3 linked regions of the Homo sapiens genome follow. The main gene of each other region encodes a partner of the protein of the gene in region 3 in a complex. Links are inferred from orthologs where the notes say so. Each region holds a gene or a part of one and is shown on either strand. Other genes may lie near its edges.

Region 1 (10,314 bases), about 60 Mb from region 3:
CCTTATTTCTGGTTCCTTCTCCAGCCATTTCCAGGTACAATCACATTATCTCCCTTTTTTGTAGGAAGTATGGAAATGACATATCATGTTTATAACAGCAGTCTACTCAGTCAATACAGGGATGCACTGGAAATCCTTCTTGAATGTCAGAGGAGTATACACATCATGTAGAACATTTCCCTGAAACAGGTTATTAGAATCACCACTGTTTTCATCCTTGAGTGCCATGTAGTATGGAGAGTAGGTGATCAATTCATTTTTCTTGAAGCTGGTTTGGATTTTGACATAAACACAGGTTGAAACTATTTTCATAATATATTGGATATGTAAACGTAATAACTTATGTCATTTGGGATTTAATTCATAGCAGCAGATAACAGCAGCTCCATTTATTGACAACTTACAATGTTCCTTGCACCATGCCAAATACCTTATGTACATAACACTCTATTGTTCTGATATTAGTGAAATGGAGATGTTAAAAGAAATATGTCCAAGTTTTCACTAAGAGGAGAGATTCCTATCGCACCAAAGCCCATGCTGCTTATTATTAATGCCAAAGTATATTCTGAAAAATTTAGTGAACTGATGAAAAGATAAATAATATGTTAGATATGTTAGACAGTGAATACAGACATTTAATATTCCAGAAATCATGAACTAAATAGTACTCTGCAAACATATAAGAATTATTGATAAAAACTAACTTAGCTTTTGAACTCACACACAAATGACTGTATATCTGATTCACTTAATTAGTAGAAACAAAAACCTCACAGTATTTTTAACCCTCAATGTCTTCTTTGGGGAGGAGGACACAAATCTTGTCTCTTACCAAATTAAGGAAACCATTAAGACCATGTGCCAGCACTGGTATCTCTGGTCAATTCAGATGTATCTTGGCCAGGCAGCTGTTAACACGGGTGTGCCAAATAGTATTTGTTGTTGCTTATTTGTTTTGCTCTACAAAAGCACAGTCAGATCATATGGCAATGGGGAGAATAAGGCTCATTAATTTGCATTGTGTGCTTGACACACTGTTCAGGCAAGGAGCAAGTTCTGAACTATGAAAGCCATTGTTCATCTGCTGCTGACTACATGGGGTATTTTAAAGAGTTCTAAAATACCTCAGACATGCAAATGACAAAATCCCATATTGAGGATTGTATGATTTGAGGGTTGTGAGAATAGCTCAAATATTCTCAACATAATTAAGAGGTTGCACCATGTTAAGAAGATAAAAGTCACGTGAGCATTTCTCACATTTAGCTCTAAAGGACAACAAACCTGACTGGCTGGGAGCCAGAGAAGGCTGACAGCAGGAACTGACCTCTCAAGGCTGTTTGTGGAGGAAGGGGGGTGGTTACATAGCATTCTATGGGCCAGGTCACTAATCTCACCTTCTCCCAGACTGCTTTCTCCAGACTACACAATCCTAAGAAGTGAGGTCACTGACTGAAACAGGCTCACCCTAGAGAAAAGTCAACCCACACAATCTTTCTAAACCCTGGTTCATGTAGAATTGTTTTCATAGCTGCAGAGAAGATTGGCAAAAAATAATATTTTGACCAAAGTGTAGAAAACTTGATCAAATAATTCTGTTTCCACATTGTTTTATTATAAAAATAAGGCCACATACATTGCAATCAACTTGTCATAATTACCTGAGATTTGTTCATGCAGCAGTTCAAATGTTCAACTTTGCCATGAGCAATTGCTTAATATATACCAGAGTTGTTAGAAGATTATTTTAGGTGGGTGCTCATTTCCCATCATTTATTTTTCTTTGCCATAAAATACTTTTTCTGCCTTTATTGTGACTGAATCTTCTGAAAAGTGGGCTGAGAAGAACATCATGTATATTGAAATATTCTTGAGTAAAAAGATTTCTTATTCCAACTTGATTCAGAGATAAAAGCACCCCATGCTTTGGAATAGTTTGTATTTTTAAAGAATCCCAACTATAAACAAATAATTGTATTTTATTTTGAAGTAGGGTGGAAATTTTAAATACTGAAGTGATTGTCTGGAATACATAAAAATGTACATGTGAGTTATGGTAACTAGGAGCCAAGTTTGTATTCATCATCAGCATCATTGAGGGGAGTTATTTATTTTCTCCATATAAGTAACTTAAAAGACACAGCAGTTACAACTCCCCAGGTTAATGTGGCACCTAGGAATTCATGTAATCATGTGCGGATTTTAAAATTCAAAAGTGTTTAAAATTGTTTTATTAATATACCATAGATATTTACAGGATTTTAATAATATACTTTTTTTTTTCTTTGCAAACAAGTCTGTATTAAGAACGCATCTTGTGTCAGAGGCTGGAGAGCATATATACAGAATGATTTGCTTTCAAAAAACTCTCAAAGATTTATGGTTTTATTCATCAGATAAGTGGCTGAATAGCAAAACAGTGAAAAATCACAATGACAATGGAAAGAAAATGGGTGCTAGGTTCTAAGAATTGAATTCCTCTGGAACTCAAACCTGCAAAATATAAAAATAAGACAAAAATATTTTGAGATAAAGTATTGCCTGTTAGATTAATTTTTCAAAACCCCAATTTCATACTATCATTTCTCTTCTAGTAACATATTTTATTATACTTGTCTCATTCACATTATATTTAATTTTAGAAAGTGCCTTACCGTGTCTTTGTCCAAGGACATCTGATTTAAGTATAAAAATGCAAAAGGAAAATCCCTAAATTGGCAAAGTCTGCCTAAAGGATTGGCCAACATTGGATGCTAATGACTTGCACTCAATCACAGCTTCAGGCAGATGAGTAAGTGATTTTTCTAATGCAAAAATGATACATTATTATTGCCTGCTAACTCTGACTGACTGGTGTTGGTTGGCTTAGAAAATTGTTTTGAGGAGGACTTGAAAGTTGTGACTCAGCTCCTTATGAAAGCCACACTTGATTAGTGATGTCTGCCATGAACATGGGAAAGGGTGTATATTTACCTGTGCTTCATATTTGCCATTCCTGTTGTAAAAGACCCGAAAGAATCTATGAAAAATCTTTCTGATTTTTGTGATAATAGAATGAGTGATACAATTATGCTCTAATGACACAAAGATTTTTTTTCCTGTTCTCTTTTTGGTTTTCAAATGAGGAAGCATAAAACCATTTATAGTGTATGTTATAATTTTGGAGAATAACTTAAAAAAATGGCTCATCACCTTTTGCTCACAATTGAAAATTTATCTTATCACCCAACATTTAAGCCATAACTGGAAGGTTTCATGGAGCTGAATTTCATGCTGCAGCTGTCTAGGTTCAGAATCTACTACAGCAATGGTGACTCAACTTACTTGACATTTTTGGAATCCTAATTTCCTCACTGCTGCTTCCATCTCCACCATCACTGACTGTTCTTATTTCAATTAAGTAGTCTTCTTCAAATGGAACCAGAAGCTCAGCTGATGTATTGTTTGTTTCCAAAATATGAGTTTTACTCTGTCTGTTTTGCCGGTACAGAATCTGAATAAAATGAGGTATCAAGTTAACATGGACATGTTGCTTTTCTAAGGTTCACACAACTGTTCTGGAACACTGTAAGACATAAGATACATCATCATAAATGTTGTACTCCTCAGATGGAAATATCCAAGTGATGTCTTTTCCTTATATTCCATTGCTCCTGTTAAGAAAAAGAGGTGTTTTTTTTTTTGGCCAATGCCTCTGGAAGGAGAGTAGATTTATCCCTATTAGTTAAATAGCTTGAGGCTATTATCATTGGAGCTTGCTGTGGAAAGTCACTGTTGAGTTTGGACCCATTTCAAATGTTGAATATATGTCTGCCAAGAGATGATGTCCATTGTCACTGATGGAAATGAGTTGCTCTGGGTACTTGATTGTACTCTTGTTAGATGCCTTTTATGTTGTTAAAAGATCACATCATACTGCAGCCTAAGTTCTAAAATCTCTATTTAGATATATTTTTTGATCTCATTGTCATCACATCTACTATGCACATAAGCCATCATCTTATGATAGCAAGGGATGCCACTTGAAGAAAAAATGTTACATCCTATGGAATTTGATTTATTGATGTTCCCTAATACATTACTGGACCTTGGAATGTAAAACATTTTCAATGGAAAATTAGAAAGCAGCAATGGTATTTTCAAAATAATTTTGAAAAAGATTCCAGTGTTTCCATATGCATCCAATTTGTTTTCCATTTGGGTGTCACATGTTTCATTCCTTAGTAACTTAATTGATATGATTAAAGGAAAAACTAAAAACTCACCTTGTACCCCAAAACTTCAGACTCATTTTCCATGGTTTTTACATGCTCCCAGTTCAAGCATAATTTAGAGTTTGTCAGCTTCCAGGCAATGTTTGCTGGTGGTTGGCTTGGAGCTTTAAAGAGATAATCAAAGATCCAAATGAATGTTAATTAGCTCATGGTCAAAGTATGATGCATCAACATGAAAAGAAAAAATAAGTCTTCGATGATTTGCATAGAAGGAGCTAAAATGTCTTCAGTGTCATTTGAAATATATTAATTCTAATCACAGTAAGCAAATTTATTCAAATCTGGTCATTTGGGAATGCCTTTGTGACAGACTTATGAATTAATAATGGCTTGCTGCATGTCCAGTATTAATTTATTAATCATTGCTGTTGAGTTTGTTTACTTTATCATATATAAACAGACAGAGGGTCTCTTTATCTAGGATTCCATTTGGCCATCAATCAATGAGCATGTTTGGCAAATTCAAGTTGCAAACATTTTATATATATCAACACATAGATGTTCATTCCTAAAATTCTTTACTTTTTAACATTGTATTAGTTAGCTTTCTAACTGTAACACAACTAACTCAAGATATTTTAAGCAAAATATTTGTAGTAAATTATCAAGGATATTTCTTATAAGTCATGGCAGATTGCAGCAGAGTCTGAGGAGAGAAAAAAATGTCACAAAGCCACAGTCTTCACTCTGCTTATTGAAGCAGGGTCTGCTGTATACTCATCTTGCCAGAGAGTACCTCTTTGTCATTCTCACTGCACACGGCAGAAATCATGACTGTTCACCACACCTGAAACTTAAAACCTCCTCTGTTCAGAGATAGTCCAAGTTTGAGTTCCCCTGAGAAAGCTGATGATTGACTTCATTTGGTCGTATGTCTATCTTAGCTTAATCAACTGTGTCTGGACAATGTGAAAGATGCATGCCGTTTAAAATAAATGGAGCTTTTGGGAAGCCAGAAAAGGGGAAAATCATCACAAACTGATTGATCATCCCAAAGGACATCAACTTTAAATCCAAACTGCGACTTTTAGTTTTCTGAAATTAATGTTGTCTGCGTGAGAGATGGTGGGAGATAAGAGATGAAAGATTTAGAATCTGGCTTCTAAAGTAATGGATATAGTCCAACTAGAGAATTTTACATACAAGAAAACGAGAATCCAGGTTGGGAAGTCACTTATCCAAAAGCATGCAGCTGACGAATCTTGGTCTAGCGCTTTCAGTCTAGTGTTTCTGCAGAACAACTTGCTGCTTATCTGAGTCCACATGACTATTTTTGAGATTGAAACTGGAGAGATATAAAATAATTCATCTGGAAAGTGGAAGTAAAGATAAAACTGCCCAACAAGATGTTTTTGGCATCTCTTTTGAATTTGTGAGGCTGAGTGAGCATAATATTTAATTCATTATAACACTGGTAGAAGTGGAAACTATTTCTTTCATAGTTTTGAGTCAACTGCTGTTTAATCTCCTGTGTGTCACTGGAAGATTCACATATTGCTGAATCCAGGTGTCTCAAATATATTACCATACATTCTCTTTCCACCCCACTTCCACTGGGATATCACTATTGTTCACTCAATCACTTACAGTCCAGTTGGGATGTGATAGAGAAATGTTTCCCTGTATGCTTACATGAGGCTTAGTTCATATTTTATTATAGGTTTATCACATTGGTTTACATTTATTCTTGGTTATGTGTTTGTTTAAATTTCTTGAGGGCAAGTGCCTTACTCAACTCTGTATTACTAACCCCTAGCACAGTGCCTGGCACATAGGAGACATCCAATTCATACACGTTGAATAAATGACTGTACAATAAGGTGGCTAAGGAAAACTGTTCAGGGCCCTGTGGTGATCTTCTCAGGCTGTATTGATTATGCACTGGGCTCTGGGCAGATCCATAGGTGACACAATACAGCCAATCCATTCATTATGTTGTCCTATGATCAAGACCAATTGCCGTGGTCAGACTCATAGCAATCCATACCTATTTATAAGATGGACAGGCCAATTGGATTGACCATGTCCTGGTACATTTCTTGACAATATAAACCCATAATTAAAGGCCTGAAAGCTTTTAGCTTACTAAGCATCCATTACTTTGCTTGTCAATGTACAACGTACTTGTCATTTATAATGCTTATCAACATATTTATTTCTAAAGGTCTGAATGGCAGCAAGAATTATTTTGTAACTATCCTTCCTCAACTTATCCTCCAGTGCCTTTTAAAATCTTTTTCTCAGCTATAAAAGATATAATATCAAAATTCTCACAGGATATTGCAATTTTAATATCTAGTCTACTCTTGATACCTTTCTTTTTATCTCTGTTCTTTAAAATTCAGCACTAACATTACCATTATATAATCAATACAGAGAAAATACAAATTCACCACTTCAGTGTCATTGGCAGTGTGGATTCTGAATGTTTTATGTATTTCCGGATGTTTTGTTTGTTTTAGGAAAAAGTATTGTTTTCAACACTATAAATCCATTGAAAAAATCAACTGGCTAGGAGACAGAATTGATTTCTTCCAGCTATGTAAAGGAGCAGTTTGCAATGTTGGCAATGACTTTGTCATTGACATGTTTGCATTTGTGTCCTCATCTACCAAAGCAGAAGCACAACTTTCTGTGGGCATAAAACGAGAAGAGTTGCATTCGGAGTGAGTACCTTGGTATGAATAGCCAATTATACAGATTATTTAGAATGTTTTACTTCTCTTGCTCTCTGGGAGATGAGAAGAGTTGGGCTTTGATGTCAGAGAGACTTGAATTTGTATCCAATCTCTTCCAAGAGCCGGATTTTCCCATTATAAAATGAAACGAATAACTCCTAATTTATGAGATATGAAATAAAATATGAAATATTCCTCATTTGGTTAGTGGTATATATTAAAAAGCCCTGTAACTGTTAATTCTCTTCCAAGAGTAGCAGTTCTCCACTGTGGTGTTATGACATAATCAATTTTTCAGTTGTGTTCGAAGTGGTTTGTTGCTAATAATCCAACTCTGAAGTTTGCAAATGATTCACTTCTTAGATACAATTAGTGTACATTCAAGTTTTCCCCTTAATAATATTGCTCTTACTTGGATGCTTGATATGTTTTTAGAAAGGGAGATAAAATGGGAGAGTCTCAGCTAATTATCTTAGAATATCTCTTAGTCTACATCCTTTCTTATTTTTATCAATGGATGTTTCTCCAGTGTCAATCCTTTATGTCTGATATTGACAAATAAAACTTCTGAAAGCTGCTTTAGAAGGCCATCACCTTAATGTGAGTACTGTTAACAGTTCTGGTTTGATATAGTTGATTAAACTGGATTGCAAATATCTATGATAAAATTAAAATTTCTATCATCTTGAGAAACCAAAACACTGCCACATGGATAGCACAAAACACATGTCATGATATTTGTACCAAGTCTGTCAATGGTAAACTCAGCAAACAAGCACTTTTCTAACTTTTAAAATCTTTCCAGGCAATTTCCAAAGACTAAATCATTTTCTATTAATCAAATGACAGAGCAACATTAAACTAGCCCCTCAGAATTCTAATGGTTTCCCTGTAATCAATTTTTCTGTAGATGGCATTTCTTTTCAACTGTAGTTCACACTGTGAACTCAATTCAAAAACAACTTCTTATGTTACACCTCTAAGTAACAGCATGGGGTTGACATTTGGGCAGAAGAGAAAGAACATAAGTGCAAGATAAAATAAAAGCTTAATGCTTCCTTTATGTTTAAATATGGATTGATTGCATATTTGCAGCAAGAAAGAATCGAGTACAAAGTGCTAGTCAGTCAACGTCAAGGGCCAAATTGAGCCAACATTTGCAAACACTTTTAGTTATTGCGTCTGAATACTTCTTTCCACATAAGTAGTGTTTTGTTTGTTTCACTTTTCTTTTCTGCTTGGAATTGACATAAATATTTTTCTTTCTTTCCTTGTAAATCTAAATTCCATTTAAGTAATGTCTGTGTGGATCACAGTATATTTGCAGTACCTCTGTTTCTTTTGGAAATCCATCATTTCCACTAGGCTTTGGTACTTGCAGATGAATCACTGATATTTGTTTAATAATACTAGTATCATCATCATCAACAGCAACAATAATACTTAAGAAGTTTGGCATATGCTGTTCCTTCTGTCTGGAAGTTCTTTTGTCCTTTAACTCCTCTTTATCTTTAATTTTGTATCAAAATACATAGCCTATCCCATATAGATGCTCCTTATGTACATCTTAGTTTCTCATTTATTTTCTTCACTGTTCTTTTCATAATTTATGATTATTTTATTCATTTGTCTTTTTTTCTTGTTTTAGGTTGCCTCTTCTCTAAAAGAGAAATTGCCGGTTGGCAAAGATCTTGCTTGGTTTAATTGCTCTTAGGCCCTCAGCATCTAACTCTAGGCATGGCTCATGGGAGGCACTATCTCTTGAGTAGATGACTGGATGATCATGTGAGAAAACAAACAAACAAAGAAAATACCTCTGTCTTCTCTTTAGCTTAGCCAATTAGAACAGGCAGAGATTTTGGTAAATGTGAGCTCTGCTTTTTCAGACTTTCCAATGGAAGATCAAATATCAGATTACAAATCTAGACAGTGACAGTGCTGAATGCAGAATTTTTTCAGTCACCACTATTGAGAGGTAATCTTGATGTCATCTCAAGGACATGGAGAGTCAAAGTTACATACAGGAATAGCACCTGGAATCATGGTTATCATCAATGTTTCAGTAAAGCTGTTTTTCATGCATGCTTTGGATGTCCTTCTACGACCCTTAAAGAAAAGAAAATTCTGCAACAAACTTATAAAGTGAAAGAAAGTAGCTGTGGTTTCTTACTTTAAAAAATGCAAAGAAAGTAAATTGCCTCTAAAGGAGGAGTATAATAACACATGTTACCAGGCACTGAGCCTTGATGTATGACAGCCTCTGGGTCACCTTGGTGTACATTATATCCTTTGGTTCTCAGAGAAATCGCTAGAGGTAAGTATCTTCATCTCTATTTTTCAGATGAGAAAATGCATTCAGAGTTATCAAATAATTAGATCTGGCACACAGATAGTACATGGCTGAGCAGGGATCCATATCCACAATTCTCTCTGAAGTCCCATTCCAACTTTTTCCAACACTGTTTCACAATGGGCCAAAGTTATTGGAATTCTTAGAAAAACGCAAATACATTAAAGGGGAAATTTTGGGGGAAGCTATAGAGCAGAAAAAAGACCATTTGACCATATATAGGCCTGGCAGGGGTACTACAAGCTGAGAGATTTCATGAAGCCAGGTAAGTGAATGTTAAACTTTAGAAGATCAGTAAGTTTGAGATGTCAGGGCTAGAAGAGGAATGTTATAGAAAGGAGCTTTGAGACACATTGTGAAAGATCTTGCTTGCCTTTTTCTTAGTCTACATTCTCTGGAATAGAGGAGACAATGACATTTGATGAAGAGAAGAGAAGTATGACGGCATTTTAGGAGGAAAAATTTCAAAGCAGTTTGAGGTTTAGATGGAGGATTTGACAGTCAGGGAGAGAAATTATTGGGATGGTTAGGGAGGAAGGTGATAAAGGAGCACAGTGGTAGTGGGATGAAGAGATTTCATGCTCATCAGTCTAACAGAGGCCATGACAAAACCTTTCTAAGCATTTGTGTCCTCCTATCTAGAAATTAAAATACCAAACTCCTTGACTTATTGTAATAATTAAGTGAGATTTAGTATGATAAAGTTAATACAGGGCTGGGGACATAGAAGTGCTCAATAATTTGAAACTGTGGTAAGCAAAATAAGGATCCCCCAAAACATGATCACATCCTAATCTCCAGTACCTGTGGACACATTACTTTATATGGAAAAGGAGTTTGCAAATGTGATTAAGAGTCTGGAGATGAGGAAATAATCTTGGATGATTCAGGTGGCTCCAATGTCATCAGGAGGGTCCGTACAAGGGAAAGAGGGAAGCAAGAAAGTGAGAGTTAGAGGAGTTGTGATGACAGAAGCAGAGGGTCAGAGGCAGAGATGTGAAGGTACCCT
Region 2 (10,161 bases), about 59 Mb from region 3:
ACCCTTTCTGACCTAGTAGATCAAGTTCTGGGAATTTATTCTGAGTTAATAATTTAAAATGTGTGTAAAATTTAACATCAGTGTATTTATCAATGAGTTATTTATCATAGCAGAACACAAACAACTTGAATGCTCAACAATAGAGAACTGATTATCTGTAGTATATTCTGAAATGGAATATTAAGCAGCTTTTAAAAGTGAGGGGATATATAACTATTGAATGATAGAGAAAAGTTCAGGACACATTGAATATGAAGAAACTGATATTAAAAACATGAACAAAATGAAAATATTTAAGAAAATATGTAATTACAGTTATGTGAATACAATGTAAATTGTTTAGGATAAGATGAAAAGATAAATGATTTGATGAATTCTGTATAAATTGAATGTCTCTAAATTGAATCGCATACCATATGGGCGGATGTGGCCGTTTAAAGGAGACATTTGGTACAGTTGACCCTCATTATTCACAGATAACATATTTGTGAATTTGCCCACTTACTGAAATTTACTTATAACTCCAAAGTCAATACTTAAGGCACTTGAGTAGACACTTGTAGACGCACAGAGGTATTTGTAGATGCACAGAGAATAAAAATTGTAGTTGCCCAATGCACACATTCCCAGCTTAGATCAAACAAAGTGATGCTCTGTGTTCTTGTTTCAGCTCTCATATTCTAAAAAAGTCTCCTTTTTGCAGTATATTTAGTGCATGTTTCTCAAATTTTGGGTTTTTCTGTTGGTGATTTTGCTGCTTAAAATGGCCTCGAGCACAGTGCTGGAGTGCTGTCTAGCATTCCTAAGCAAAAGAAAGCTGTGATGTGCCTCACAGAGAAAATACATGTGTTAGATAAGTTTTGTTCAGGCAAGAATTACAGTGCTGCAGGCCATGAGTTCTATGTTAATGAATCAACAGTATATATTAAAGAAGGTATCTTTATCAGTTGATGAAAATCTTGTTACCAGAGGCTGTCAGGAACATAACCCTTTATTGTCTCCAGTGTTTGCAGTGACTTTATAGAACATAATTACTGAGGACATCAGAAATCAACTATAAATACTTTTGCAACTAATAGACCTTTGGAACAATTATTTTTGGATTTTGTATAAAGAATCCAAAAAAATCTGGAAAACGTGTGGCTAAGAAAACAGTTGATTGGTCCCTAATTCCACCTTATTATGTTTAAATTCAGTGGGTGTCTCACAGCCACGTTTATAAAGGAATCTTGGCTGGGGTGTCAGGTTTCTAGTTTACTTTGACTCTATCTGTCAGTCTGTGTCCAACCTTCATGGCAATTAACTGTGCTTTTGTGTGCTAATTATCATTATCCCAGTATGGGCCCATTATTAGTCCAATGTCCTTAGTTTAAAGCTTAAGTGTCAATCAGTCACCTAAAACAATTGCATAGAAGGAAGCTTTGCAAGGCTGGTTTGAAAGTCCTTAGCTGAGTTCTACTTTATTATACTCCAGTTCGAAACTGAACACAAAGCTCTTCTTGATACAATTGTTTATTTAAATACTGATTTATCTACTTAATTAAAGCAAACTTGAGTTTATATTTTAAAATCAGGGATGGGATAATTGCTACTTTATGCTTGAAGATCTATTCAGGTAGCTATACATTAAACAAGTAAAACCGTAATTATAAAACCTGCACATTTTTATCTGATTGAGTCGCTCCTGCCATTGAACGACCTTATTCAAGTCATTTAGAACAAAGAAAGGTGGCATATATGAGTTTTTTAAAATCCCACTGGATGCCAGGAGTAAGGAGAAAATAGCATCAAATCAGATGTGGTCAGAAAAGAGGTATTTCTTTTCCTGTGATGCTTTTCCTCTTTCCTCCTCTTACAGTAAATCCCCACTTATCAAATCTTCAGATGTGTAGAGAAGGAATAAGGCAGGGGTAATGGGGGAGTGGGACAGAGAGATGCCCTTTCTGGAGTTTGCACAACGGTTGCATGCTGAGTAAAACCTGATGATGTATTCCATTCATGTCTCCAAAAAGTCAAAAGCGGTTTCAGCGTTGATTTCCCTTAAGAGTTATCAGTCCTCATTCAATTGGTTTAATGAGTGTAAGAGGTGACCTTGTGTCTATGTAGATACTCCCATATTAAAAGACCTGGATGTAAAACTTCACATATGTGTAAATAGTTATTTTGGAGGGTGTTGTGAGGGTTATTGCAGCTCTCTGCTCAGCTGCTACTCAGGCTAAACGGGCAGGAGAAATTTTCCACTGTGTTAGAATGATGATTATTTGCAAATTACATGAGCACCAGTAATTCATTCATGCAATGATACAGAGCTGGGTCTCAGTGCAGTGGTATTGAACTTGCTGCTGGGGGCGTTAATTGATTCGTTTGGAACATTCCCCTCCAGAGAATCCCAATCACAGGTCCCCTGATCAAGAAACGGACACGCAGTCGGGGTCCTGGATATGTAGAGACACACGTGTGAGGCTGTTGTCATCAAAATAAACCATTTCTGTCCCCTGACAGGGGTTGAGTCTATTAGGAACACTCCCCAATCCTGGGAGCTTCCGCAAGAGGCTTTCTATCTTGGCAGAGGTGGCAGCTGAGCATCGCTTCTTTGCTGCAGGATGGAAAAAAGGGACTGGATTATTGGCTGCATTTTAAACTAGCTGCTGTTCTAGAGAAAATGTTGGGGAGGGACTGAACAAGCTTAGCACTGGATCAGTGTGGGGGTGTGTTGGTGAAAAGAAAAAATGCCTCCTCCTAACTTAACGTTTAACTGATATCCCCTCAACACGACCCAAATCTGTCTCTCCAGATACACAATGTCTGTTTTCCTAACTACATGGTGAACTGTGGAGCAAGTCTTGGTCATGTTTAGTTTGTTTCCCAGAATCTACTAGAAGACAATGCCTAGCATATAGCAGGCACAGAATAAGGGCCAAAGGGGAGAATGGAAACAAAATATGTACATTTGAAATTTAGAAACACAGTTAAGGGACTTTGCCTGAAATTGTCATAAAACTTTGAAAATTGCTTCAATGTATAGTCCCAGTGGGAGAATGTGACAGCATATTTTATTCTTTGTTCTTTTCTGAAATTCTGTGTCCAGTCTAAAACACGACATTTCCCTTTAATGTGTTAGGAGTATGCATGACTACACAGGAATATTTTCTGGAGAACTTCTGGTGAAGCATATTTTGATAAACAGTCTTACTAAAAGTTATATATATGTACTTTTAATTGACTAGTTGCAGAGAAATAATCAATGTAAAAAAAAATCATACATAGTACAGGTAGTAAAAGTCACAGTTCCGGCAGAAGCACAAAAGCCTTCAAAGTGAGTGGGAACCTGGGAACCATTGATCCTCAGTGGCTGTTTACCATGGAAAACACCTGCATCACCAACATTCCAGTTTTGCAAAAGTACCTCTATTACAGACACATACCAGGCAAGGAGGGAGGAAAAAGCCTGAAAATTTCTCTCCAAGTTTAAGTAATCAGGAAACTTTGGTGGGGAGGTTGGGGTGGGGTGGGGGCGGGGGGGTAACTTCTTTATTTAGCATTAATCTCAGCAATCATGAAAGTCATGGAATTTCAAGTGATGAAAAATTTGACCACAACAATACCTATCACTAGCCTGGTTTTGCCCACTTCTCGAACAGGAATTATAAAGATAATAATTAATTCTAAAAAGCAGAAGACAAAACAAACAAACCAAACCAACACTGAATGAACTAATAAGGCTGCTGCATATATATGTTGGAGTTGGATGTTTATTTGCTTACTGCAGTAGTTTAAAAATAGTTTTCCAGTTAACATCTTTTCCACATAGTGGAGATGTCAGGGTAGGTTTACATGATTGCGTAAATGGTCAGAAGTTGTTTATGTAGCTCTGAACTGCTGAGAGATGAGCAGGAAGACCTGGGTTCAGCAAAACCCTTGGGGCTTTTTCCCAGAGAGAGAAACAGAGGCTCCTCTCTGGGTTGCTGGAATGCTTTCCAGACGAATTCGACTGGGTTGGCTTTTCTCTGCCTGTCAAAGTCACTTTGCACAGTGCTGGTGAGGGGCTGGGGCATTGCTGCCAATCTCTACGGTTACCCCGAGGTGTGGAGTTGCGGCGAAGGGAGCCACTTCTGCAAGGAAACAGTAGATTCATAATGTAGAATGACCGTGGCAACGTCGTTCAAAGCACATTCTTTCGAATAACAAGGCTTTCGACATGCCCCACCCCCGCGCACAACACACCACAAATTGATCCTTGTACCTAATTTACAGCAACTGTTCCCTCTGACCTCCCCCCGCCCCCGCCCCACATTCCAACCTGAAAGCACTTTGCGTGGATGAGACTTCAGGTGTGTAACGCAGCCTGTCCAGCCAGTGTCCTCCGCCTAAGGACAGGCAGGTAAAAACCTACCAAAGCCCCCTCTTCTGGCCTAAGTTCAATGCCACCCGCCCACCCACATTCCCCGGTTCAGCAATTTTCAGCCCAGACGCAGAAGCATCTGTTTCCCTGGCCAGGGCGCCTTAACGATCCCCCGAATTCCGCGTCTCCCGGAGGCCAGAGGTTTGGGTACCCAGGAAGGTCGCGCCTCCTCGTGCCCCGATACTCGGGTTGTAAAGGGAGGAGACATCGCCTCGGCGCATCCCTGGCCGCTGAACAACGCAACCCCTACGTCCCCGCACGGGAATCCGGCTGATAATCTCCTCTTGCCTGAGAATCGGGCCAGGCGCCCTTTACTAATTTCGCGCGCTGGGGACCTGGGGCTGCCGCCTCTCGGCCGCGCGGGGCAGGTGCTGCGTCCCCAGCGCTCGCCTCCTCCGGCCGCGCACTGAGCATGCGCGGGCTCCGGGCCTCCGGCGCGTCTCCCCGTCCCCGCTCGTCTCCCGCCCGTTCCCACCCGCCCGCGCCTCTCCCCTTCCCCGAGCGTCTCCCCCGCCCCGCGGCTAAGGAGCCGGCAGCCCGAACTCCGGCGCGCCAGGTTTTTCCAGCCGCCGCGAGCGCCGGGAGGGAGGGCAGCGCCGCGCCAGACGGAGCCCGGGGTTCGACGCCAGGATTGGCTGCAAGTAGGGAGCTTTCGCCGCCGCCCCGGGCCCCTCGGACTGTGCCGGCGCCGCACCCGAGGCTCTCGCCAGCCCGGCGCCCCGGTGCTGAGGTAAGTGAGGCGGCAGCTGTGCGGGTCCGGCTCCTGCGTGGGCGCGCGATGCCCCGGGGACGCGGTCGCGGGTGTGGGGGGGAAAGGGCAGGGTCCGCGCGGGTTGCCCGAAGGACAGGGGCGCTTCCCGGGGCTCTGACTCCCGCGGGGCCGGGCAGCGTCTGCGGGGCCGTCCAGCTCAGAGCCCGGAAGCCCTGCAGGGTCGGGGAGCGGGAGCTGAACGCCTGAGCGCGGAGGACTCAGGGCCCCGACGACGCCACCGTCACCCCACAGCGACCCTTCTTCTCCTTCTCAGCCGGAAAATAAGTTTGTTGCGCTGCGAGGCAGCCACAAAACAAGGAACCGAGAGCCCGGAATGCTGCGGGAAGCCTTCAAGTCAGCTCCTCCGACTGGTTCGGGCTACTGCCCCCTCTCCGTGCGCCCTGGCCTCTGGCGCCGGGTTCCCGGCGGGGCTTTTCTTCTGACAGCCCAGTCACAGCCCGCAGCAGAGGGACGCGAACCTGGGGAGTGGAGGGACCTGGGACTAAAGGAACAGGAGCCCGTAGCCGTGGTGGAAGGAGCCGCGTGGAGACGGAGGCTGATGTCTGTGGCGCCCGCTGGGTGCCGGGCTGGCTGCTGAGCGCTGAGGCTGCGGCGGCGAGCGACAGGCCAGGTGCCTGCTCTTAGGGAAGGTACCTGGCTTCCCCAGTCTCTGCCGCGGGAGCCTGTTGGGTGGCATTCGTTTCCAGCAACTTCTGGGGGGTTTCCAGTTTCTTTCGAGAGGCAAGACAACCGCCCCGTCCCCTCCCCGGGCCCAGACGGCGGCGAACTGTGCGCCGGGCGCCCCACAGACCCCAATCCACTCACTCTCCTTCTGGAACGCGGGGCTCAAAATCTTCGTGCATTTTCTCTCTTGTGCTTCGTGTATATGTTTTACTATTTATGAAGGGTGTGGAGGTGAGGGTAGGAGGACGTGGGCTCCTGAATCCCTCTGAACCAGCCAGAGAGTCGGCTGCATGGAAACATTTCGCAGCGAAGCTCCTGCGAGGAGGCGGCTTCGCGCGTCGGGAAGATCAGGCGGTTGCTTGCTGGCCAGGGTCTGCAGATTCGGTGCGAAGAAGCTGGCGGAGGTTGTGTAGGGCGAGTCAGTGTGACTGAGCACCCTGGGTGTGTGGTCTGCGTGGAGGAGAGTGGGCCGGATCTTGAGGTGTGTTGGAGGTTTATTTGTAAGAGGAGTTCCTGAAAGGAATGTCGTGGAACTTTTTCTAGTTTTCCTGCTGGAATCAACATAGGGGCGGGCACATGTTTGTCAGAATAACAGTGGCATTTAACTGCATGGGAAGCTCTTTCAATTTTCTGTAGTGGGAGCTGGATAGTTCAAGGAGTAACTCCACATAACTGAGTCGTTTGGATACCCACACAAGATAATTTGGAACGCGCTTGTATTTTTTTGTTTTTTGAGATTTCTGGTTTATGTCCTTTAGAGAGTGGGGTAGGAGCGTAAAGACTGTATAGGTTGCCTATGAGCAGGTCCATACAATAGCGTTCCCAAGTCTGCCTAATAGCAAGTTTGTTCTCTCTTTCTCTCTCTCTACCCAAGTGGGTGAAAAAGAACAGTGTGTCATGAAGACAGGCACCTGGAGGTGATTTGGGTGGCATTCATGAGAAAATTCACGTTACCCGTAAGTTTATTCTTGCTATTTTTATCTTGATTTCTTTAAAGATTTTGTGGGAATATCTGCAGTGGGTCGCAGGAGTAGGTAAGATTGCTAAGGATCAAAAACAAGTTTCATGAGAATATTATTTTTGCTACCTTATAAAATAGCTATTGATTTGTTTGTTGAAGCTGGTTTCAACTGCTCTGTCTTGTTGAGGAGAGATGATGCTGATAAACGTCATTATTTTTCCATCTGAACCCTGGGAGGTAGCTGGCAAGGATGGAAAAACTGACCTTTTCAATTAAAGACTAAGAGTCTAAGAGAAGTGACTTGGATAAGGGTGCATGTCAGAGCCACATGTAAGTTTCAACAGAGGTAGATTTTCCTATTTGCAGTTTTTTAAACAACACTTTTCAGTTTCTTTGAGTTGTAAAACTTTTCAAGTCAATTGGGAGTCAATGCAGTACCTTTTTCCATGGTCATTTCATATTGGCAGGTAATTAAGAGTGATTAGAGAACAAACCTTTCAAATGATGTTGGATTTTTTATCATTCACTTATTTTACCTACTTCTCTCTCCTTTTTGTTCAAAAGTAGGTCTTCTGATTTCTTTTCCGATCTAAGCACTAAATCTTTTGGCTGCAGTTTTTCTTCTGAAATGTATACAGGGCATCCGTTCCTTCAATTTAGGTCTTAAAAAAATAAAGCTGCTCAGCAGAAAATTCCCATGCATGGTACTGACTTTTCTACAAGTTTGTCTGATCATGATTTTAACTTGTTGTTTCTTCTTTGTTATATTTGAGGACAGACATAATATGCATTAGCTTCAATCTCTCTTATCTTAAAAATTAATATTTTGTAAAAACTTGCTTTTATATTATTTTAGTTGAATAAGTCTATTTCATATGATAGGCAGGGGGAAGTCTCTACACACTGATTTTTTTTGTTCCTTTTTGTTCATTTTTCCCTGTAATGCTATGTTTTAAGCCTAGTGAAGGAGGCAAGGAGGCAGGATTTACTGCCTAGATTTATTGATCTTCATTATTATTATTATTTACTATCAGAAGAAATCTGACAACATATCAATAAAATTTATTTATAAACTGAAGACATGCTGTTATATGATACACTACTTATAAAACACACAAAGAAACAAAAAAGATGAATAAAGCAAAAATTATGAAATAGAAGGTCTCATGTTGCTGTTATGTATCCCGGTGGATCATTTTGTACAGCCCCTGGGGTGTGTAGCACACTTTAAAGATCACTGCTGGTTTGATATTTTTAAAATCTTTCTCTCCTTATCTCTGCTCTGCTGTTCATCATCTCTGATACTCTAGCCAGTTGTAAAACTGCTACACTTCTATATCTTCTGTAACAAATAGATTAAGCACACTTGTTTTCCTCTCATGGACTCATATGTGGATAGAATGAGGTGTAAAGGATGAATGTGTTTTGGAGATGTCATCTTAGATCTCCCAAAGTAGACATACAGGTGAATTTTAAAAAATGGAGTTTTAGTTTAAAGACTAAGTACCAATGGTCAGGAAGTGAAGAATCCAAGGAGTAAATGAGGGAGGATTGGAAGGACACTTTCCACATTGCAGTGTTGTGTGGAGGCTGGAAAGTTCATAAACCTTGAAGCAGATTAACCTGAATCTAAGTCTGGCACCATCATTTATTACATTTACAGTCCTGGGCAATGTAGTTCCTTAATTTCTGTGAGCCTTAGTTTCTTTAGGTATAAAATTGGGATAACATCTATTTCACGGCATCACGATAGGGATTAAACATGAGAGCATGAGTCAACATGGGTCAAGAGCTTGGCTCTTTTAGATTGGCTCTTTAGCAGATATAACAGATCCAAAAGGGATACTGCCTCAGATGTGAAATATATTTATTTCTCGGTTGTGTGAAGTCCCAGAATGGGTGATCATGGCAGTACTCCTTCAAAGTGTGATTCAGAGACCCAGCCTTCATCTGTTCTGTGCCCTTGCCGTCTTCAGCAGGGTCACTGTGCTTACTTGCATCAAGCCATTGGAAAGAGGAAGACTTGGGAGGATGTTAATTGCCCAGAACTGGAATGAGTGCATATTACTTTTCCTTGCATTGTGCTGGCCAGAACCCAGTTCTTTGTGGATGTACGTTACTATTAAGGAGGCTGGGAAATATAGTCTAGAAATGTTATCCAGGAAGTAGAAGAAATTGTTGGGGGAACAACTAGCATTCTCTGATGTTTTATTACTATATGTGATATTTCTTCCATGTTCAATAACTGTTACTTCCTTTTCTTCTCCTAACCCTTGCTTTTTTTTTTTTCTGGTAGAAAAACTGGAATGGATACAATAAATAATAATAGAAGCAGTTAATACATACATAATGCTTACTATTATTGAGATACTTTTTAAAGCACATTGCCCTACTTTGCCCTTCTAATATTATCTCTATTGTACAGATGAGGAAAACTAGGCATAGAGAAATTAAGTTATTTGTTCATCATAGCTAGTAAGTAGCAGAGCTGGGATCTGAACCAGGTTCTCTCACTCCAGAATTGATTTTTTAACAGCTTTTTTTTTTTTTGCTTTTGCCTCAATACTTTTCTTATTTAAGCCACTGGACCGCTTTTTACTTTTGCCTATATATAAAAAAGTTGCCAAGAGAATTTTTTAAAATACTAAAGTAGAAAAAAAGGATATAATCCAAAACATACTGGAATGGAATTAGATATGATACAGCTTTATCTTGAATACCTACCAGGATCAGGAGCAGATATTTAAAGTAACTCCCCCCACTTACACACCCTTCACCACTACAACTGCTCTTTCATTTGTGATAAACACATTTTCAGGGTCTGTGCCTTGAATTATAACCTTCCTCTGAAGATTCTATTGTGGGAGTCTTGCGCTACCACTTTCATGCTTCAGTATGTGAGGATAAATTCCTCTTCACTTCTCAGCAGAAACAAATATCTTCCCTGGCAGGTTTTTCAGCTAAAATAGCCTCTCCTAACTTTTGATCAAAGGTATTGCTCTTTATCAATATCCCCATCCTCCAAGAAAGGAAACCCTCTTCTTTTCCTATGAGCTTTGCAAAATTATTTTTTATTTATCTATTTATTTATCTTTATTTTCTATATGACTAAGGGGACTGTATATATATCCCAGGTACCGTCTAAAAGAAAATGGTCCCTCTTGTTCTCATCCTGTTGTCCCATTTCCATTAGAGAATCTGCCTCATCTTATGTTTCCTATGTATTTGTCTTTCATAAAAATGCCTGTTAGAGTTTTGGTTCCCAGTGGCTGCAGTGGAAATGTGTAGTGGTCAATAGTAAGCGTATACTTTTTGCTAAGATAGTTATTGTTTCAACATTAAAGAGTGATTTTTTTCCTCTTG
Region 3 (10,695 bases):
CCACCACTGTCCTTTCCCTTTCCCACACCCCTCGGCTCCCGGACCAGGAAAGGGGCTATTTACCTCGCAGCGTGGGCGCGAAAAGAAAATGAGAAGACGAAAATGGTCCAAGCCCCACGAAGGCTGGTTCCCTGGCAGTCCCATTTTGGATCTCAAGCTTCCTCACACACCAGGGAAAAGAAAACCACGGTCAGCCCACTGACTGCATCCCCGAGCGCAAGAAGGACAGAAGTGGAATTGGAAATTCCTCTAATTTGCAAGGCAGCCCTCCACGACCTCCCACTGCACCCATTAAAGAGTGGCCCTCACAAAGCTCAACCCCTGTGTGCACCTGAGCCCGCTCAGTCGTCAAGTCCGTGGTAAAGCAGGGGAGACTAGAAAGGAGAGATGATTAACCCAAATACTGAGCAGTGATCTTTTAGTGAATGAAGGCAGCTGTTTCTAAGGGGAGATGTCCCCATGGCCTACACTACCGTAGAGGCCGTAGAGGCAGGACTCCAGTGGGCAAACCCCAGGCCCCAGTGTCCTACCGTAGAGGCAGGACTCCAGTGGGCAAACCCCAGGGTGAGTGTGGACGCACGTCCTAGCTCGGCCTCCGAGCTGCGTTTCTGGGCTGGAGCTCCGTGCCGCTCCGCGGGCAGGAGGATGCGCAGAGAGAAAAGGGGGTGCAGAATACCAGACGGTGTTTTCCCTTTCTGCCCCTCGAGGCCATCCCCGATTCTGCAAAGGGGGCATTCGCTGCCAGTCCCCCGAGGGGATCCCCAAGGGCGACGAGGGCTCCCGCGCGCCCTGCTCCGGGTCGCACGACGGGACTAAGGGACCCGCTGCACCAAAAACGGGCGCTCCAGCCGCCCGAGGACAGGCGTCTGTAACCAGGCAGAGCGGAGACCTCGGGGCACATTCCTCTTTTTCTTGATTCAGATAACCTCCACCTCCGGGTATGCAGGAGTTGATGGATGAGAGGGCAGAAAAACGGGGAATTCTCTGTCCTTAGGGGAGCGAGGGATGAAAAGCAAATCACCCCTTCTTCCAGCCCTTCCCCGGGCTAGGGCAGGACTTGGCCTCCACCCCAAGGGACAGCTACGAGGGAGCTCGGGGCTGCTGCCCGGGGGACCTGCAAGAGAGGAGAGGGAGGCAGCTGGCCTCTGCCCTCCCCAGGGGAGAGAGGAGGGGGAACTGCCAGCTGAGAGCTGGAAGTGGAGGGTCGCCGAGCCGCACACCGTTACGTGCGGTGATTTATTCTTATCAACGGCCAGTATTGTTCCTGTCTTAACCTGGCCAGAAAGGAGCGAGACTGGGTCTGCCAGCCGCGAACAGCCTGCAAAAGGGCAAAGATGAAGGTAGGCAGGGCGCGCGAGACAGGAAAAAAATCAGCCCCGGCGCGAACAGCAACCCGGCCGCCGAAACCGCCCCGGCCGCCGAAACCGCCCCCGCCCCCTCCCCGCGTCCAGACCCAGGCAATCCAATCGAGCAGAGCAGCGGAGGGAAAGGGCCACGGGCCGGGGCTAGGGGAGACACGGATCTCTCCGAAACCGCCTGCGCCCTGCCGTCTCACTGCGCCCAAGGAGGCTGCCTCACGCCGGCACCGAAGTGCTGCCCGCGCCCCAGCCCCCAGAGAGAGGGAGGACGCCCCCGACCCAGAACGCAGGCTGCTCCCCACACATCCTCAGTCCTCCGCAGCCAGCCTCCGACTTCCATTCCCCGAAACCTAGCCCTCCCAAAGGGATGGAGAACAGCAAAGCAAACCCCCACCTTCTGAGTTCCTTCAATACCCGCCAGAGCGAGGGGGCTCATCCCGGGCCCCCCAAACCCACAGAAGCATCCTTTCCATGGCCTCAGTCTCCCCAACCGCCCCACAACTCGAGTTCTCCCGATCGGCGACGAGTCAGCAAAGCAAGTCCCCCTTTCTCCCGATTCCAGCTCCCCAGGACCCCCAAAAGGGAGCGGGAGCAGACCCCCGCGTCCCCCAGCCCCCTCCCCGGCCAGCCCCTGCCTCCACCTTCCTCGACCACTAGCCTGCCTCCCTAAACATCATCCAAGCCAGCGGAGCAATCCTTTTCTCCTATCCGGGCGCCGGGCCACCCTCCACCCTCTCCAGGGTCTCCCGGACGGGCGCCGGAGCTCCGCGCCCAGGCGACAACTCCGCATCCCCAACGCGCGCCGGCCGGGGCCGCATCCCCTCGGCGGCCGGCACTCACCGGGGAAGCACACGACATAATGGAGCACGGAACTGGTGATTTTCAGGAACAAAATCCACCAACACGGTTCCAGTAACCTCCGCATGTCCGAAAACGCACATCGAAAAGAGGAAAGCAGGGAGGTAAACTTGTTGAATAAGTTCTTGCCTCCGTGCGAGCCTCCGCTAAGCCGGGGCGCTTCCCCGGCTCGCCCGCTCCACGGGCCCCCCGCGCTCGGCGGCCCGAGTCCCCTTGGAATCCGGGAAGCCGCCGAGCGCCCCCCGGAAAATCTCAAAAAGTGACCGGGAACGCAGAGCCACGCTGGGGACGATCCTCTCGGCGGAGAAAGGCTGCTTTCCGTTTAAAAAGGAGAGAGCCGATCGGGCAGGGCGCGGAGTCGGCGGCCGGCGGCGATGCCCCGGGCCTGGGGCAGGCAGGGACCGCGGGCGGCGGCGGCGAGCAGCCGAGGATCCCCAACTTGAGTCGGCAGCGCAGCACAGCCCGAGAGCCGGCGGGCGGCGGCGGGGCTGAGCGCGGCGCGGCGTCTCCGGGCTTCAGGCAGGCAGCTCCTTCCAGGGCCCCGGGAAGGAAGGAGGCATGTTTGCGAGAGGGGAAGGGGAGGGGAGAGGCAGGGGGAGCGGAGAGCCCCCCAAAATAGAAACGGCCGGAGGAAACGGAGGAAAACACAAAGGATCTCAGAGGGGCGCTGGGGCGAGGGCGCCTTCAGTCCATGCTCCTGAAAGTTGTGGCTCCGGCGCAGGCTGGGAAGGAACGAAGAGCGCGGGGCTGGAAACTGGCCATGCCTCCATACAGGAAGTAACATGTGAGCATGGATCCTGGCAGAGACTTTAAAGCCGGCGAGCGAAGGAGCGAGCGAACAGGGGGCGCGCGGTGGCGGCGGGGGCGCGCAGCCCGGGCCAGCTGGCGGCGGGCGCGCGCTCTCCGCGTTCTTAAAGCAGCCGCGCTTGGCTCCCGCCTTGCGCTGGGTCCCTCGGCTCTGCTCTCTCCGCGCGGCCTCTACTGGGACAGTTTGGGGACTGGGGGCGATTGTAGCCCGTGCGCGGAGAGAGGAGGGAGGCTGCCTTCTGGGGCCGGCTTGTTTTTTGCTGGATTCCCGTTGTTCGAGCTCTTAAAAGACGCCGCACGGTGCTCGGGTTTGGCGAGATCCTCCGCGCAGCTCGCGGATCCCGGACTTGAGGGGCCCCTCGCCCTGGCGAGGGGAAAGGGGGAGGGCGGACAGCTGCCTTTTTAAAGCGATGGGGTTTTCTGTTCGGCTTCACTGCCCTGGCATTTGCAGCGGTGAGGCTCACCGTCTGCGGCTCCTGTTCGCGCCTCCAACACAGCGCATTCCCCCGCCGGGAAACAAAGCCGAGCGGCCTTTGCACTCCGGCTACATTGAGATTTAATTTTTTTTTTTTTTCTTTTTCGGGCTTTCATTGGCCCAGTCCAAGGCTGGGGAAAGTGGGGGAGGGGAGGAATGTCGATCCCAGGATTGCGAAATCTAGCCCTTCCGAGCCCCGCATCCCCTTTCCCGGCGCCACGATGGATCGGTGGCGGAGTTTCCCCAACTCGCAGCTTCTCTGGAGAAGGTTCCCGCACCCCGGTTTGGCCGCGGGGAGGGCGCAGGAAGTGCGCCTCTTACACCCTGCAGGGTGAAAGCAGCGCCGCGGGGCCGGACTGATTTCCTGGCAGCTACCCGGGGAGCGGCTGCTTCTTTAGCAATCGGGGAGAGGCGTCCGGGGGAAATGGGAGGACTAGGCTTATCTGTAATGAGTTTTGTCCCTTGGCTCTCGGTAAGAAGATCTTTATCGCTTAGACTTCTAAGCGCCCTATTTTACATTCTTAACGCTGGGGCTAAAAGTGGGGGAGGCGGGCTTTCGAGTAAATGTGTAACTGAGCCAAGGTAATTAGCCGTTTGACATTTTTTGCCTAATTTTTCTGCCTGTGTTTCAAAGCGATCTTGACGTGGGATTGTTTTGTTTTGTTTTGAGACGGAGTCTCGCTCCGTCGCCCAGGCTGGAGTACAGTGGCTCGATTTCGGCTCACTACAACCTTCGCCTCCCGGGTTCGGGCGATTCTCCTGCCTCAGCCTCCCGAGTAGCTGGGACTACAGGCGCCCGCCACCACGCCCGGCTGATTATTTTTTTGGTGGTTTTTTTTGTTTGTTTTTTGTTTTATTTTGGTTTTTTTTGTAGAGGCGGGGTTTCACCGTTTTGGCAAGGCTGGTCTCGAACTCCTGACCTTGTGATCCGCCTGCCTCAGCCTCCCAAAGTGCTGAGATTACAGGCGTGAGCCACCGCGCATGGTTCTTGTGTTTTAAACGTGTCCCTGCTGTTTCATCCCAACACGGCAGGGTCCTCCACCCACCCAAACATCCCAACCGGATGCTAGGTTTTCAAATAAAGTACAGATGGTCGGAGATCCTCCCGTTCGATGTGATTAAGGAAGCATTTTCACACCCACACTTCCAAAAGAAAAACCTTTGAAAAGTTACGTATGGGATTACAAACTAATAAAAGCCAGGAAGTTCCTGGGGAGGGCCCTAGCTCTATCTTTAGCAGAACGGGGGTGAACACCCTCCCCCAGGGTGGGGAATGAGGCGAGTTTGTTTGCTTTGGAATGTGGTCCTTCCTGGTTTTATTGGAATCCTGACTTCTTTATAAAGGATTGCGAGGGCCATTTTTCTTGGAAGTGTTGTAATGAGGGATATTCGTTCCTCAAGTTAGATTACCCCAGCATCCCTGACTACCTTCTTAATGTCGAGTGATAAAATAGGAAAAACTCGTCAAATACTTGTGTCAGCGTCCTCAGGTGAGGTTTCCTCCTCTGTGAAATGGACAGTAAAAGCTGTCCTTTGTGGAATGCTTACTGTCTACCAGGCATTGTGCTGAATTCATGCCATAAACTGCTTGCTCATTCAACAAATGTATTGAGCACCTACTGTTTGAGGGACACACTGGGAACACAGCCTCGAACAAAAAGGGCAAGCCCCCATGCCTTATGGGAGCATACCTTCCTAAGTCCATGCTCCGTTCTCTCATGGAGTTCTTAAAATACTGCCAGCTGTGAGAATTATTTTCCCCATTTAATAGACAAGGAAACATGCTCAGAAGAGTACAATGATGGATCCTCAGCTAGTGGGCAGCAGAGCTGAGATTCTCAACCCAGGCCTGTTTGCCTCCACAGCTGTGATTCAAGGCAACAGAATAATGGCTTGAGAAGGCACCAAAATGTGGAATGTAAAAAAAGAGCTTCAGAGTCGGGGAAAACCTCATATGGGTTTGCAGAGTGAATTACCACTACCTTAGTAGTGTAGGAGGCCCCATGCTAAAACTTCACATCCAATTCGGTATGGACTGGTGACTGTCCTAGGACCCCAGGCTGAAGGTTACCCCCAAACTACCCTTGGAAGCACAATCCAGGCCCCACCAGTTCCTACAAAAGATAAAATTTTGCAAACATACATCACAGATGCCTTTTCATTTATTCTGCAACCAATTACAGAGCGATTCATATATAATAGACACTTTCAAGTGCTAGTCACACAATAATGACCTAGCAGTAGCCCTGCCATGCTCCTACCTGGTAATTACAATCCTAACCCAGGTGATATGGGAGCTCTATGATAACAGTGAGCAAGTTGGTGTGAAAAGCCCTGGGAGTGCCAAAGGAGGGAGAGCCTAGCTACCCTGATGGAAGATAAAAAGGCTACAAAGAGAAGATGCTGACGTTAGTAACAAATGACCCTCAAATTTAGCAGCTTAAAAAAATATATACTCATTGCCTGTCACTTTTAGAGGTGAGAAGCTGGGGCACAGTATGGCTGGGTCCTCTGCTCAAGGGCTCATCAGGCTGAAATCAAGGGATGGGCCAGGCTTTCTCATCTGGAGCTTGGGCTCCTCCTTCAAGCACATTCAGGTTATTGACAGAATTCAGATCCTTGTGGTTGTAGGACTGAGATTACTATTTTCTTGATGGCTGTTGGCCAAGGGCTGCTTTCAACTAGTGGTCTAAGCCACACGGCGCCCTCACAACATGGCAGCTTACTCCTTGAAAGTCAGCAGGAGAATCCTCCTACAGGAGTCTAGAGAGTGACCGTTTCATCACTTTTGTCATATAATGTAACCTAGTCAAGGGAGTGGCTATCCTGTCATGTTCACAGGTCCCACCCACTTTCAAGAAGAAGGAATTATATGCCAAGGGTTGGGGATCTTGGGGACCATGTTAGAATCCTGCCTACCATAGTGCTGGTGACCTATTTTGAATATAGACTGGAGGTTAAAGGCAGTAGCTTTCAAGCCAGTCTAGTTAGATTCTGATGCTACTCATATATGCATGACCATAGGCAACTTAATCACTTTATGCCTTGGCTTCCTCATTTGTAAAGTAGGAATACTATAATAACCATACATCTTCCTAAATAGAGAAGAATAAGAGGAATTAATATACATAAACTATTCAGATCAGTGCTGGGAACCTAATAAGCATTTAATAAGTATAAGCTATTACTGTTATCTGTTTACCCAGCCTATGTAATAAGAAGTGAACATCTGTTATTTTCTACCTGCTCAGCGTCCATTTCTTTTCTTCTAGTAATAGTGTCCCAGTTTTCCTTTGTGCCAGTCTCCCCAGATGGTCTTGGTGAGCCTAACCCTTTCTTCCCCTATCCCTACCTCCACCTCTCCACTTCACTGGGTTAGGTGGACACGTGCCCTAGTCCTGACCAAATGGAGCATTTCATCCCTCTGACCAGACTGGTCTAGGGATGGGCACATATTTCTAGTAGGTCCAATGAAAGTCAAACTTCCTTTTAGGTTTGCCAGGCCAGATCAACTTAAACCTCATACTGCAAGGAGGGCCCTCACTTGGGGCAAGCCCATCTGAGAATCTGACACAAGAAGAAAAAAAGAATACAGAGGTGGGGGCCAACAAATCCCTGATACCTTCATTTGAGTCCTTGAATCAAGTCATACCTGAAGCCAAACCAACTCCTTGACTTGTCAGTTACTTGAGCTAATAATTTCCTCTTATTCCTATCCCTTACGTTTTTATTCATTAAAACTGAAAACCTGAAACCTGGAACCAGTGGTGACAGATGAGTAAAATATCTACATTTTACAAAAAAGGAAGCAGGGGCTGTTAGAATTAAGTGATTTAGTTGAGGCAATTCAGACTGTAAACAACAGAAGACTCAAGCTTTTAACATTCTTCTGTATCAATCATTTATTGTTGTGTAACAAATCACTTCAAAACGTAGTAGCTTAAAACAGTAGGACAGAAGTTTGGGGTGGGCTCAGCTGAGTAGTTCTTCTGTTGGTTCTGTGTGAGGTCACTCATGCATCTATAGCACCAGAATCCAGATGCTCAGCTGGGGCTTCGTAGTCTAAGATTCCCTGACTCAAATGCCTGGCAATTCGTGCTGGCTGTTGGTTGGAGCATCTCAGACCTCACCCACTAATCTCTATAGCAGCCTGTCTCAGACTTATTTACAAAAAGATCTCAGGTAGGAGAGTGAGAGTGAAAATTGCAAGGCACCTGGAGACCTAGACTTAGTAGTTGTGTGAAATTACTTCCATTTCATTTGACTGGTCAAAGCAAGACAAGGCCAGGGCAGATTCAAGAGGAGGTGGAAATGGACTCCAGTTCTTGATGGGAGAAGCAGCAAAGTCAGGAAGCAAAAGGACATGAATAGAAAGGTAGGAGGAAATTTGTGGCCTTCTATACAAACAATCTACTTCATCTACTGTTAAAAGTGAGTAGTGCCTGTTATGGGTTGAATTATTGTGAAGTAATGTTGAAAGAAGGTATCTAACCCTTAGAAGCTCAGGATGTGAACTTATTTGGACATATGGTCATTCCAGAGGTAATGTAGTTAAAATGAGGTCCTTAGTGTGGGTCCTAATCGAATATGACTGGTGTCTTCATAGAAAAGGGAAGTTTGGGCACAGACACAGACAAGCACACAGGAAAGATGAGGGGAAGACACAGGAAGAAGACAGCCATGTGATTGGAGTGATGCATCTACAAGCCAAGGAACACCAAGTATTGCCAGCAAACACCAAAAGCTAGGAAGAGGCAAAAACTTCCCTTACAGATTTCAGAGGGAGCATAACCCTGATGACACCTTCATTTTAGATTTCTAGCCACCAGAATTGTGAGACATTGAATTCCTGTTGTTTTAAGCCATTTAGTTGGATGTACTTAGTTACATCAGCCCTAGGAAATAAATACAAAGCCCATTTACCTTTTACCCTTCGTTTGTTTTCATGTATAGACAAAACACATTTGTGACTGGGCTTTCAACTTCTCAAGTGAATGTTTGTACAACAACAACAAAACCCATTGTAATCATCCTAACTTTAAATTTTGAGGCAATGTTTATTTTAAAGAACTTAAGACTTAGCAAAGCCTATTTATTCTGAAAATATATATAACCATAGAAAATCTCTTAAGTCCCCTAATAATAACTTTTGTCATTACAAAAAGCCCTATATTCAGTGGCTGAAAGAAAATGAACATGCAGTGGCATTTTTTTTTTTTTTGAAACAGAGTCTTGCTCTGTTGCCCAGGCTGGAGTACAGTGGCACAATCTCAGTTCAATGCAACCTCCACCTCCTGGATTCAAGCAGTTCTCCTGCCTTAGCCTCCTGAGTAGCTGGGACTACAGGCGTGCACCACCACGCCCAGCTAATTTTTTGTATTTTTAGTAGAGATGGGGTTTCGCCATGATGGCTAGGCTGGTCTCAAACTCCTGGCCTCAAGTGATCTGCCTGCCTCCGCCTCCCAAAGTGCTGGGATTACAGGCGTGAGCCACTGCACCCGGCCATATAGTGGTGTTTTAATACACTATTTAACAAGTAGGATTAAGTTTGGGTGTGGTGGCTTATGCCTGTCATCCCAACATTTTGGGAGGCCAAGATGGGGGGATCACTTGAGCCCAGGAGTTCAAGACCAGCCTGAGCAACATAGTGAGACCCCAGTCTCTTAAAAAAAAAATTAGCCAAGCTTAGTGGTGTGTGGCTATACTCCCAGCTACTCAGGAGTCTGAGGTGAGAGGATCTCTTGAGCCTGGGAAATTGAGGCTACAGTGAGCTGTAATTGCAGCACTGCACTGCAGGCTGGGTGACAGAGCTAGACGCTGTCTAAAAAAAAAGGATTAAATAGTCATAGCAAATATGACTGGTAAGGCTCTTTTACATTAAAGATAGATTAAAGAAAACTACATGATCCTATCAATTAAAGCAGAAAAGGTATGTGACAAAATTCAACATTCATTCATGATAAAAACTCTCGGTTAACTAGGAAGAGAGGAGGTTCCTTAACATAATAAAGGACATCTATTAAAAAAAAACCCATAGCTAAACTTATACAAGTCTGAATTCTTTGCTTCCAAAACTGGAAACAAGGCAAGGATATTCATTTTCACCACTCTTTTTTTTTTTTTTCCTCACTCAGGGTAAATAATACATTCTCAGCACTCTTATTCAACATTATTCTGGAAATTCTAGCCAGTACAATAAGACAACAAAACAAACAAAAAAAACCGTATATATTAGAAAGCAAGAAATAAAACTGCCCCTATACAGATGACATGATTATCTGCATAGTTCCCAGTGAGTTTAGCAAGGTTGTAGGATGCAAGGTCAACCTACAACAATTATTTTTGTGTCTATATATGAGCAGCAAAAGATTGAAAACTAAAATTCAAAAAAACTCATTTACGATAAACTCCCCAAAATGAAATACTTTAGTATAAACCTAGCAACATATGTGTAGGATTAGTATGTAGAAAACTATAAGCTGCTCATGAAATAAGTCAAATAAAAACTAATTAAATGAGAAATATACTATATTCATGGGTTGGATGACATTATAGTCAAATATACATTTTCAATAAATCTATGCATTTGTGCATTTCCACTTTTTGTAGATACAGACAAGGTGATAATAAATTTATATAGAAAAGCAAAGGAACTAGACTAGCAAAGCAATTATGAAAAAGAAGTTAGAAGCCTCACATTACTTGACTGTAAGACTTACTATAAAGGTTCATTAATCAAGCCAATATGGTATTGGTGGAGTTATAGATACATGAAATAATGAAATAAAATAGAGAACCCACAAATAGGCCCACATAATATTGCCAATTGATTTTTACAAAGATGCAAAGGCAATTTCATATAGTGAGGATAGTTTTTTTCAACAAAACATATTAGAACAATTGGACATCCATATGCAAAAAAAAAAAAATCCTCAGCCTATACCTCACATCTTATGGCAAAAATTTTTTTTTTTTTTTTGAGACGGAGTCTTGCTCTGTCACCCAGGCTGGAGTGCAGTGGCGTGATCTTGGCTCACTGGAAGCGCTGCCTCCCGGGTTCATGCCATTCTGCTGCCTCAGCCTCCCGAGTAGGTGGGACTACAGGCGCCCACCACCACGCCCGGCTAATTTTTTTGTATTTTTAGTAGAGACGGGGTTTCACTGTGTTATCCAGGATGGTCTCAATCTCCAGACCTC

Evidence for each region.
Region 1: the proteins of PTPRG (region 3) and CNTN6 are in contact, whole or in part, in a crystal structure (PDB 5E5U), measured with the Mus musculus proteins. The link is inferred for Homo sapiens from one-to-one orthologs. Residues at the interface, in NP_033007.2 of Mus musculus: Val225, His226, His227, Lys229, Phe288, Thr290, Gln292, Gln293, Asp294, His295, Val296, Lys297, Ser298, Val299, Glu300, Tyr301; in NP_059079.2 of Mus musculus: Arg129, Val132, Arg135, Gln138, Gly139, Val140, Val141, Leu142, Leu143, Cys144, Gly145, Met222, Gly223, Tyr225, Glu226, Pro227, Lys228, Glu230, Leu252, Asn306.
Region 2: the proteins of PTPRG (region 3) and CNTN4 are in contact, whole or in part, in a crystal structure (PDB 3KLD), measured with the Mus musculus proteins. The link is inferred for Homo sapiens from one-to-one orthologs. Residues at the interface, in NP_033007.2 of Mus musculus: Lys222, Val225, His226, His227, Lys229, Phe288, Thr290, Gln293, Asp294, His295, Val296, Lys297, Ser298, Val299, Glu300, Tyr301; in NP_001103219.1 of Mus musculus: Thr128, Arg129, Ser130, Val132, Ser133, Arg135, Gln138, Gly139, Met140, Val141, Leu142, Leu143, Cys144, Gly145, Val219, Met220, Gly221, Glu222, Tyr223, Glu224, Pro225, Lys226, Glu228, Leu250, Asn304.

What each region holds. Positions count from the first base shown.
Region 1 is NC_000003.12:1,395,500-1,405,813, reverse strand, and holds the end of CNTN6 (contactin-6 isoform 1 precursor), read right to left. Parts: intron 4,382-10,314; coding exon 4,269-4,381; intron 3,497-4,268; coding exon 3,328-3,496; intron 2,497-3,327; coding exon 2,396-2,496; 3' UTR 1,597-2,395; downstream 1-1,596. UniProt on the Homo sapiens protein: Contactins mediate cell surface interactions during nervous system development. Participates in oligodendrocytes generation by acting as a ligand of NOTCH1.
Region 2 is NC_000003.12:2,093,847-2,104,007, forward strand, and holds the start of CNTN4 (contactin-4 isoform a precursor), read left to right. Parts: upstream 1-5,019; 5' UTR 5,020-5,132; intron 5,133-5,427; exon of another isoform or gene 5,428-6,318; intron 6,319-6,469; exon of another isoform or gene 6,470-6,711; 5' UTR 6,712-6,793; exon of another isoform or gene 6,794-10,161. UniProt on the Homo sapiens protein: Contactins mediate cell surface interactions during nervous system development. Has some neurite outgrowth-promoting activity. May be involved in synaptogenesis.
Region 3 is NC_000003.12:61,553,876-61,564,570, reverse strand, and holds the start of PTPRG (receptor-type tyrosine-protein phosphatase gamma isoform 1 precursor), read right to left. Parts: upstream 3,001-10,695; 5' UTR 2,284-3,000; coding exon 2,199-2,283; intron 1-2,198.